2 separate regions of the Homo sapiens genome follow, and region 1 is linked to region 2. The links come from fine-mapping of genetic effects on gene expression. A gene starts in region 2. The other region holds a variant in brackets. All regions are shown on one strand. Distances are from middle to middle. Region 1 overlaps RNF103-CHMP3 (RNF103-CHMP3 readthrough). Region 2 holds the start of RNF103 (ring finger protein 103).

Evidence for each region. PIP is the estimated chance that this variant, and not a neighbour inherited with it, causes the effect. A credible set is the group of variants that fine-mapping cannot tell apart.
Region 1: its variant is the best candidate, but not a certain one, in a credible set for the expression of RNF103 in whole blood (TOPMed, PIP 0.61).

Annotation. Positions count from the first base shown.
Region 1 is chr2:86,548,351-86,553,350 of GRCh38, forward strand. All of the region lies in intron 3 of RNF103-CHMP3 (RNF103-CHMP3 readthrough), which reads right to left. All of the region lies in intron 1 of CHMP3 (charged multivesicular body protein 3), which reads right to left. Among named protein-coding and RNA genes, the nearest start is that of CHMP3-AS1, 11 kb to the right of the region's middle. RefSeq lists an enhancer at 4,369-4,538. The variant C/T (reference allele first, on the strand shown) is at 2,492.
Region 2 is chr2:86,621,649-86,626,648 of GRCh38, forward strand. It overlaps RNF103 (ring finger protein 103), which reads right to left and starts at 2,217. Exons shown (of 4, transcript NM_005667.4): 1 at 1,013-2,217. The coding sequence starts at 1,238. All of the region lies in intron 2 of RNF103-CHMP3 (RNF103-CHMP3 readthrough), which reads right to left. RefSeq lists silencers at 1,038-1,087, 1,268-1,347, 1,618-2,157, 2,238-2,407 and an enhancer at 2,118-2,412.

The sequences.
Region 1 (5,000 bases), 73 kb before region 2:
GTGTCCCTGGGTACGTGAGATTAGGGAGTGGAGATGACTCTTAATGAGCATGCTGCCTTCAAGCATCTGTTTAACAAAGCACATCTTGCACCACCCTTAATCCATTTAACCCTGAGTTGACACAGCACATGTTTCAGAGAGCACGGGGTTGGGGGTAAGGTTATAGATTAACAGCATCCCAAGGCAGAAGAATTTTTCTTAGTACAGAACAAAATGGTGTCTCCTATGTCTCCTTCTTTCTACACAGACACAGTAACCATCTGATCTGTCTTTCTTTTCCCCACATTTCCCCCTTTTCTTTTCAACAAAACCGCCATCGTCATCATGGCCTGTTCTCGATGGTCACTGTCTCTTCGGAGCTATTGGGTACACTTCCCAGATGGGGTGGCCGGGCAGAGGCACTCCTCACTTCCCAGACGGGGCAGCCGGGCAGAGGTGCTCCTCACCTCCCAGACGGGGCGGCCGGGCAGAGGCGCACCTCACTTCCCAGATGGGGTGGTGGCCGGGCAGAGGCGCTCCTCACATCCCAGACGATGGGCAGCCGGGCAGAGGTGCTCCCCACCTCCCAGATGATGGGCCGGGCAGAGGTGCTCCCCACCTCCCAGATGATGGGCAGCTGGGCAGAGGCGCTCCTAGCCTCCCAGATGGGGCGGCCAGGCAGAGGCGCTCCCCACCTCCCAGATGAAGGGCAGCCGGGCAGAGGCGCCCCCCACTTCCCAGACGGGGTGGCGGCCGGGCAGAGACGCCCCTCACCTCCCAGACGGGGCGGCCGGGAAGAGGCGCCCCTCACGTCCCAGACGGGGCGGCCGGGCAGAGGCGCCCACTTCCCAGACTGGGCAGCCGGGCAGAGGCGCTCCTCGCCTCCCAGACAGGGCGGCCGGGCAGAGGCGCTCCTCGCCTCCCAGACGGGGCGGCAGGGCAGAGGCGCTCCTCGCCTCCCAGACGGGGCGGCCGGGCAGAGGCATTTCTCACTTCCCAGATGATGGGCGGCCGGGCAGAGACGCTCCTCACTTCCCAGATGGGGTGGCGGCTGGGCAGAGGCACTCCTCCCTTCCCAGACGGGGCGGCCGGGCAGAGGCGCTCCTCAGTTCCCAGATGGGGTGGCCGGGCAGAGGCGCTCCTCACTTCCCAGACGGGGCGGCCGGGCAGAGGCGCTCCTCACTTCCCAGACAGGGCGGCCAGGCAGAGGCGCTCCTCACTTCCCAGATGGGGTTGCAGTCAGGCAGAGACGCCCCTCCCCTCCCAGAAGGGTCGGCCGGGAAGAGGCACTCCTCACCTCCCAGACGGGGCGGCCGGGCAGAGGCGCCCCTCACTTCCCAGATGGGGTGGCGGCCGGGCAGAGACGCCCCTCACCTCCCAGATGGGGCGGCCGGGCAGAGGCACCCACTTCGCAGACGGGGCGGCCAGGCAGAGGCGCTCCTCGCCTCCCAGACGGGGCGGCCGGGCAGAGGTGCTCCTCGCCTCCCAGGCGGGGTGGCCGGGAAGAGGCGCTCCTCGCCTCCCAGATGGGGCAGCCGGGCAGAGGCGCTCCTCGCCTCCCAGACGGGGCGGCCGGGCAGAGGCGCTTCTCACTTCCCAGACAATGGGCGGCTGGGCTGATACGCTCCTCACTTCCCAGACGGGGTGGCGGCCGGGCAGAGGCTGTAATCTTAGCACTTTGGGAGGCCAAGGCAGGTGGCTGGAAGGTGGAGGTTGCAGCGAGCTGAGATCACGCCACTGCACTCCAGCCTGGGCAACATTGAGCATTGAGTGAGTGAGACTCCGTCTGCAATCCCAGCACCCCGGGAGGCCACGACGGGCAGACCACTTGAGGTCAGGAGCCGGAGACCAGCCAGGTCAACAGGGCAAAACCCCGTCTCCTCCAAAAATGCAAAAACCAGTCAGGCGTGGCGGCGCACGCCCGCAATCCCAGGCACTTGGCAGGCCGAGGTAGGAGAACCACGGGAGCCCGGGGCAGGGAGGCTGCAGCGAGCCGAGACCACGGCAGTACAGTCCAGCCTCGGCAACAGAGGGAGACGGAGACGGAGAGGAGAGGGAGAGAGGGAGAGAGGGGGAGAGGGAGAAAGGGAGAGGGAGAAAGGGAGAGGGAGAAAGGGAGAGGGAGAGAGAGAGGGGAGTTCTTAAACAAGACACAAAGGCAATAACCACTAAAAGGAAAAGGCTTCTTATATTTATCTATATTGAAATTAAGAATTTTTATTCATCATGACTCCATTAAGAAAGTAAAATGTTACAAACTGGGAGATATATTCGTAATCATATAAATGGTAATAAATAAAAGGCATTTACTTATTTTTTAAGAATGGAATTCTCAATATTGTACAGTCAGCCCACTATATCCATGGGTTCTACATGTGTGGATTCAACCAACTACAGCTCAAAAATATTTAAAAAAACAAATGGTTGGCTGCATCTGTATGGAACATGTAGACTTTTCCCATCATTATTCCCTAAATACAGTGTAACAACTATTTACAGAGCATTTACATTG[C/T]ATTAGGTATTATAAGTAATCTAGAGATTAAAGTACACAGGAGGATGTACATACGTTATATGCAATTACCTTTTTCTTTTTAAATCAAGTACTTCAGCATCCATGGATTTTGGTATGGGCGGAGGGACCCTGGAACCAATCCTCCTCAGATACCGAGAAATGACTACATATGAAAATCTGCAGGATAATTTAAGTTTCTGAATGATATTGTCTTCTTCCAAAGAGGAATTACATTTGCTTCTGGCAAACATATAGCTTAAGTGTCCTGGCAATTGGTTCTTAACTAATCTTAATTAATCCTATCAGGGGATAGAGATTATTTGAAACTGGTCTTCAGTCTTTGTGAAAGCCAGTCTACTTCCAGGTCACTATTATTGCTAAGGGGTATTCTTTCAGAGTCCCAACCACAAGCCCTGAATATCTGCTTATGAACTCCAATTTTTTTTTTTTTTTTGAGATGGAGTCTCTCTCTGTCACCCATCTCGGCTCACTGCAACCTCTGCCTCCCAGGTTCAAGCAATTCTCCTGCCTCAGCCTCCCAAGTAGCTGGGACTATAGATGCCTGCCACCACGCCCAGCTACTTTTTGTATTCTTAGTAGGCACGGGGTTTCACCATGTTGGCCAGGCTGGTCTCAAACAACTGACCTCAGGGGATCTGCCCACCTCGGCCTCCCAAAGTGCTGGGATTACAGGTGTGAGCCACCATGCCCGGCCATGAACTCCAATTTTTATACTCCCCAACCACAGGGTTTGTCAAAAACTCTACTCAAATTCTATTTGTCACCCACTGCATTAGGAATTAGAGGATCTCTTTAGGGGGAAGGTAGTCCCAAATGATTGGGTTCATGTAACTGAGCTTCCCTCTTTGCTGAGATCTTGATTTTGCAATTTCTCACTGCCCTGGTAGCTTTCAGTGATTTCAAATAGTTACACTTTTTGTTTAGCTCTTTTAGTTATTTTTGGCAAAGGGTTGGTTCAAAGCAACTTAGTCTATAAACACCTTCATGATTTTTTAAAGAACATGTTTCCCAGTTCTGTTCCATAAAAAGGCTTAGAAGCAGGGATACTCGAATAGCAAGAAGCATCAGGCTCACTCAAATTTTGGTATCTAAATAGCATTCCCGCTAAAAGAAACCACTGCATCTTGGAGAAATGGCCGATTTCAGGTCTCAGGCTAGGAATTCACAAATCATACCAGGATATATGCTAGAAAACAAGGAAGTATTCAAAGATTAGTAAAGTTATGCTAAAAGCAGATAGGAACTGGCTTGAAATAGCTCCCACTGACCAAATGTATAAGTTTTTCAGTATCAAACAGAATAATGGTTAGAACTATAACACACTAAATATATAAAAATCCATGAGTCCAAAACGGTGCTTCTGAGAGGAACGGGTGGAGAGAGAATGCAGTTGATACCACCGGATATTATTATACCAATTCTTTATTCTAAATATTAGCAATTAAATAAAGAGCATTAAGCACTTATCCTGCATTTTCAATAGAAACTCTATGTCAAGGTAACCAAATAGCCCCAGCTAATAAGGGACAGATCTTTATAGAACACTGCCAGCTAAAAATGAAAAAGAAATCAGAGAATTAGAAAAATCACCACTCTAAAAACCCTTATAGAATAGCTGATTCAGGAAAGGGACACCTATAAATGTTAATGTGTCTAAGTGAAGGATTACTGAAGAGCTGGACATTCACATGGTGCTAAAATATCACCCCTCAGGTTAGTTACTAGCATAAAAAGGAAAACATAATGTAAAGATCTGGTGTGTCACTACCTCAACCAGGTGGCCAAAGTTATTAGCATCATTAATTACAAGACAGACATTATATGCCTCCTGATGTGATACACTATGAATCACACAGGTTACCTGTGAGGCATTCTTGCTAAAATTGTTTAACCTGGATCTTATCAAACTTAGATCCAACTTCCATTTCATAGAAAACACAGGGGGTAGAGAAAAAAGCTAACCACAAAAGGAACAAGATCATGTCCTTTGTAGGGACATGGAAGGAGCTAGAAGCCATTATCCTCAGCAAACTAATGCAGGATCAGAAAACCAAACACTGCATGTTCTCGCTTATAAGTGGGAGTTGAATGATGAGAACACATGGGCACATGGAGGGCAACAACACACACTGGAGCCTGTCAGCCGGGGGTGGAGATCGGGTGGGGGCAGCTTGATGGGGGATGGTGGGGGAGGAACAGCATCAGGAAGAACAGCTAATGGATACTGGGCTTAATACCTAGGTGATGGGATGATGTGCGCGGCAAACCACCATGGCACATGTTTACCTATGTAACAAACCGGCACATCCTGCACATACACCCTTGAACTTAAAAGTTGGAGGAAAAAAAAAAAAAGCGATAACCACAAGACATAGACAAAACCATAACAAGGAACATTCTACAAAACAAATGCTCTATTTTACAAACGAGTCTTTATTCTTACAATGCTATAAGTAGAAAGCAGGGGATATTTATTTATTTATTTATT
Region 2 (5,000 bases):
TCTATCACGCTACATGTCTATAAGGTACTAAAGAAGGAAAAGATTTGTCTTGTAAAAGATACAGCTGACAAAAATACTTGAAACAACAAAAAAGATAACCATCAGTTTCAGCTGCTTCCCACAGCAACGCAGAAAGCCTTTCTCAAATTACATTCCACTTTCAGGAAGTATATCCAAAGATATACTTTGTGCAGCAGTGAAAAAAATTAACCATATTTCTCACCCAATCCTACCAAAACCAACAATTACTAAAAACACATTCTTTAAGACATTGAATATTCTCTCAGCACTATTTCACGTATATTTCTCAACCCATTAAACAATGCAAGGGTACCTGTGACACAGAAGACAAAAAAAATTTTTCTTTTACACATCCAAGATGCAAATTTTTAAAAATCCTAACAGAAATATAATATAAACTCGAACATGGCAGGCATTTATACAAAATGCTCGCCTTATTTTCACCAAACTTAAAGTCTGAAAAGCTAATACTGTACGGTGTATACTGTCTATATTCAAACTCATGATTTAACATTTAAATCCTAGGCCCAAGTGCCTCTGATAGTAAGTATTCCAAAGATGTGTCCCCACTCTGGGTATCTTATTATTACTATCGTGACAAATATTGCTATTGACAGACAACGTTTTGGAGTTTTTCTTACGTTTTTATGAACTTCAACTGACAAATAATGCTTTCCAGTTTGTAACTAGTTGATATTCCAGAATTTTGAGAAAATCACTCAACTTAGTAAACAACGCTAAGAAGCCACACTTTAAACTGTCATTTTACGATAACCTTAAAAGGATACACCAACACTCCTCCAAATAATTTCAGACTCCTCCTCAAAGCTGGGATCCGCATACTTGATTGTAGGAAGCTTGGACGAAGAAACCTGGGCAGCTTTAACGCTTCCAGGAAAGGCCTCACTCTGGGGGAACAGCCAGGTACCAGGAGGTACAGGTCGTCCCCTCTCCCAGGTGGAGGGGACCCTAGGGGAAGCCCGATACTCGCCTGACTTTTCCACCAGCTCCCGGACATCCTTCTTCTCGGGCAACCCTGAGTAGCCCAACCCCCGGCACTCCAAAATGGTCTTCAGCTTCTTGAAGCTCAGCGCCACCGGATCCACCAGCTGGGTGGCAAAGATGCCAGTTTCATACCACACAATGGCCTCAAAAAACCTGGCCAGGACGAACAGGACCAGGAAATAGAGGAGCAAGAAAAAAAGCTTCAGCCACATCTTCCCTGGAGTTTCCTCTCTTTCCAGAGAGCTCGGAATACGGGAGAGAGAAGGGTCGAGGGCGGGGGCCGCGGCTCGGTGGCAGCTTGGGCGAGGGCCCCGTGTCCACGCGCGGGCCACCCGGCGCCGTCACTGGCCGGCCATCCCCGGCGGGGAAGCAGGTGACGGGATCCGCGCGGGCGCGAGGCGGCGACGAGGGACGCAGAGACGCAGAGCCTCGCGCCGGGCCTCCCAGTCAAGAGCCGACAAAAATAAAGGGGAAAAACTCAAAACCCCCATCCATTAAGCACAGAAAGGAGAGGGGCGCGGGGAGAGCTCGCGGGGAAGAACAAAACGAGGGACGCTTCCCCCGGGGCGGGCACTGACCCAGGTGGCGGGGTCGGCCCTCCGGTGCCGCGATCTCAAGGGGGAGGGGGAGACCAAAAAATAACTCAGATCCGCCCAGGAGGCGGGGATCCGGGCGGCAGGCCGGGGCCCGAGGGGCCGTGGGGGCCGGACTCCCGCGGCCGCGGGTCAGGAGGGCGCGGCGCTCGGCCGGGCCAGGCCCGGGGCCCAGCGTGTTCTGCGCGGGGAGGAGCGGCCGCCGCAACGCCGCGCCCGAAGCCCAGGCCCCAGGCCCCGCCGACCGCCCAGGCTCCGCGAGAAGAGCGGCGGGCACGGCGGCGGCTCCAGGTTCGCTCGGGCCGGCTGGCGGGCGGCGCCTCTCAGGCGGGCGGGCACTGCGGCCCGGCCCAGGATGGGGCGTCGCGGTCTCTGCAGATGGAATCGGTCTCGGAGGGAAAAAACCAATAATAGGCCCCGAGACTGCTCCTCCAGGCGGCTACCCGGCTGCCTCCCGGCCACTCAGCGCCCGTCCCGCTCGGATGGGCAGTGCCGGTCGCAGCACCCGTCCCCAACACCCCCGCCACCTCCGGAGACCGCGGCCGTACCCTCCACAACCGTGTATCAGCGGCGGCCGCGGCCGGAGCCGAGACATAACAACTGACGTCGCGATGAGGCGGGGCCGGGGCGGGGCCTGCAGGGTGCGCCCGCAGGGGCCGAGGGCGGGGAATTCGGGGAGCCGCGGGGCTACCGGACTACCGAACGAGGGGCGGGAGGAGAGGCGGAGCCGCAGCGTGGTCGGGGCCTTCCCGCGGTGCCGAAAGTTGCCTCTCCGTGCTTTTGCGGCGTGGTCTCCCCTTTTGCCCCTCCAATGTTTAGCAATTGATTTTGTCTGAGGATTAGTCTTTAGATTGTATCACTTTGTGTATTTTTTGTAAAAATAGAGCAGTTAATTATTCTCTTAAAATCGGTGAAAATAGAAATGTACGTTTTTTGATGAATCCTGGTGAACAGGGAAATTTTTGGCACAGTTGGTTTGAGATGGTAGAAGGTTAAACCCAGAAAGCAAATGTTTTGCCCCCTCTTCATGAGAATGTGGCTTTGCACATGTGTGTTGGAGGAGGTTTGGCCAAAACTGGAGTTCGCGTTATACTAGGCCCAGTTGTCGCTGCCAGTTACAGCCTTTTCCCTCCTTCAGTCTCAAGGGTGTTAAAAGCCTGGTGTGGACTCCCTGAGTTCCTAGGACAAAGATTGTCGAGTGTAGATAAGTCCAGGTGCAAAGTTCCGGGTGCTTTATTTTGTACATGGGCCTGGCACAGTGGCTCACGCCTGTAATCCCAGCACTTTGGGAGGCCGAGGCGGGCAGATCACGAGGTCAGGAGTTCGAGACCATCCTGGTTAACACGGTGAAACCCTGCCTCTATTAAAAATACAAAAAATTAGGCCGGCGTGGTGGTGGGCCCCTGTAGTCCCAGCTACTCGGGAGGCTAAGGCAGGAGAATGGCGTGAACCCGGGAGGCGGAGCTTGTAGGGAGCTGAGATCGCGCCACTGCACTCCATCCAGCCTGGGTGACATAGCAAGACTCCGTCTCAAAAAAAAAAAAAAAAAAAAAAAAAAAAAAAGAAAGAAAGAAAAGAAAAAAAAGAGTCACATGGACAAGCATGCGATACCTGGTTCTGTGCTTATAAATTTAACCGGGCCGAGCGTACTCTTTACGTCAATCTCTGTGTCAGTCTTGAGGGAGGAAGGAGTTGGGTTCATAAACTGAACAAGGTTGGCTTTGACCAGCCCCTTTTGATAAGGAAGGAAAAAAAAAACAGTAATTACGGGGAAATGTTACTATTTGTGCAAAACTGTCAACTATCTGAAACTAGGGGTGAAAGTTTTAGGAAGAAAGGGATCATGATCCCAGGTCATGGAGCAAGGGAGGAACGGGAAGCAAAGAATGGACTGTGAGAATGTAGCCTCCGAATGGTGCCCATTTAAAATAAAGTGAACAAGGGCATTTCAGTGCCGGGCTAGTGGGGGAGGAGTTGGAAGGGGATGGGCCCAGGGAGCATTGAGAATCAGAGGAGGAGGTGTAGGAATGTCCAGCCAGCAACTGGACACTGCCCCTGTGTCTTTAGCTTCCATGTGGCTTTGTTCTCGTGGCTGGCAGATCAGTGTGGGAGACTGTGTTAAACAACTGATTCTAACAAGCCTGGTTCTGAAATTTCAGAATTCTTGGGCATGTCTTGGTGACCCTTTGATGATATTGTCCAAACCTTGACACTGAAGGTGATGTCCCTCACCTCAAAGGAATGTATGTACTCGCTAGTGAGGAGAGACTGACCCAATCTCAAAAATACAGAATAGGCATGGGCAGGGAAAGTTGGTGTGTGAGCTGAGGGTGGAACCAGTCAGGCCAGAGTTCCAAATTGGAAAAAAACATTAGAGTGTGGGAGGGACTAGAAAGAAGGAATTAAAGAACTCTTTTTAAATTTCTTGTTTGTTTCAACTGCCTCCCATCCCAACCCCCTTGCTTTGTTTCATTCATGGTTAACCCACAGGAGGGATAAAAGCATTGATAAGAGAACACATTGGGTCATCTGAATAAGAGAGTATGGACAAGCACATTCTATGTTGGTGGGGTATACAATGTGGGTTAGAAGCCCCCCATAAAATACAAGCTCTTTGGCACAGTAATCTCTCTTCAGGAAATTTATCTTGAGGAATAATTGGACATGGGCACAAAGATGTGTGTATAGAATTTCGTCGTTGTTGCAGAGTTAATGCTGGAAAGAAAAAAGGAAGAACCCAAATATCTAGTGACAGAGGATTGATCAAATACAGTAATTCAAATGATGAACCATGAGGCAGCCACTAAAAAGAAAAATGTAGACACACGGTTATGGACATGGAACCATGTCCAAAATATAGTGTTTGGTGAAAAAAACCAGGTGACTGAGAAGTTTGCGTCATATGATCCTATTTTTGTATCTGTATTACAAAAAGACAGAGATGTATCCACTAAATTGTTAGGTGTATTCACCTCTAAGTGATGGGATTTAGAATATTTTTTCTTTTATGCTATATCTCTGTTTTATTATATTTTCTGAAATAATCATGTATTACTTTGTAATCTAAAAAAAAAACAACAACAACAAAACAAAACAAAAAAACCCACTAGGACTGTTTTCCTGGTCCGGAGGTTTAGCGGCAGCGGTTCATCCTCTGGGACTCCAAAGATGACAGGGGTTGGAGGTGTGGGCTGTCTTCCCATGAGATTGATTTCAGTTTCCACTAAGCCTAGCTGGGCAGACTAATTAGAATTTATTTTCAAAAACAGAAGAATGTATGAATTATTCATTTTCATAATCTGTTTTTCTAATAGGCTATTAATCTGGGTTATTGGTTTTATATCTCAGATTCTGTTCATATGTAGGATGGCTTAAATGCTT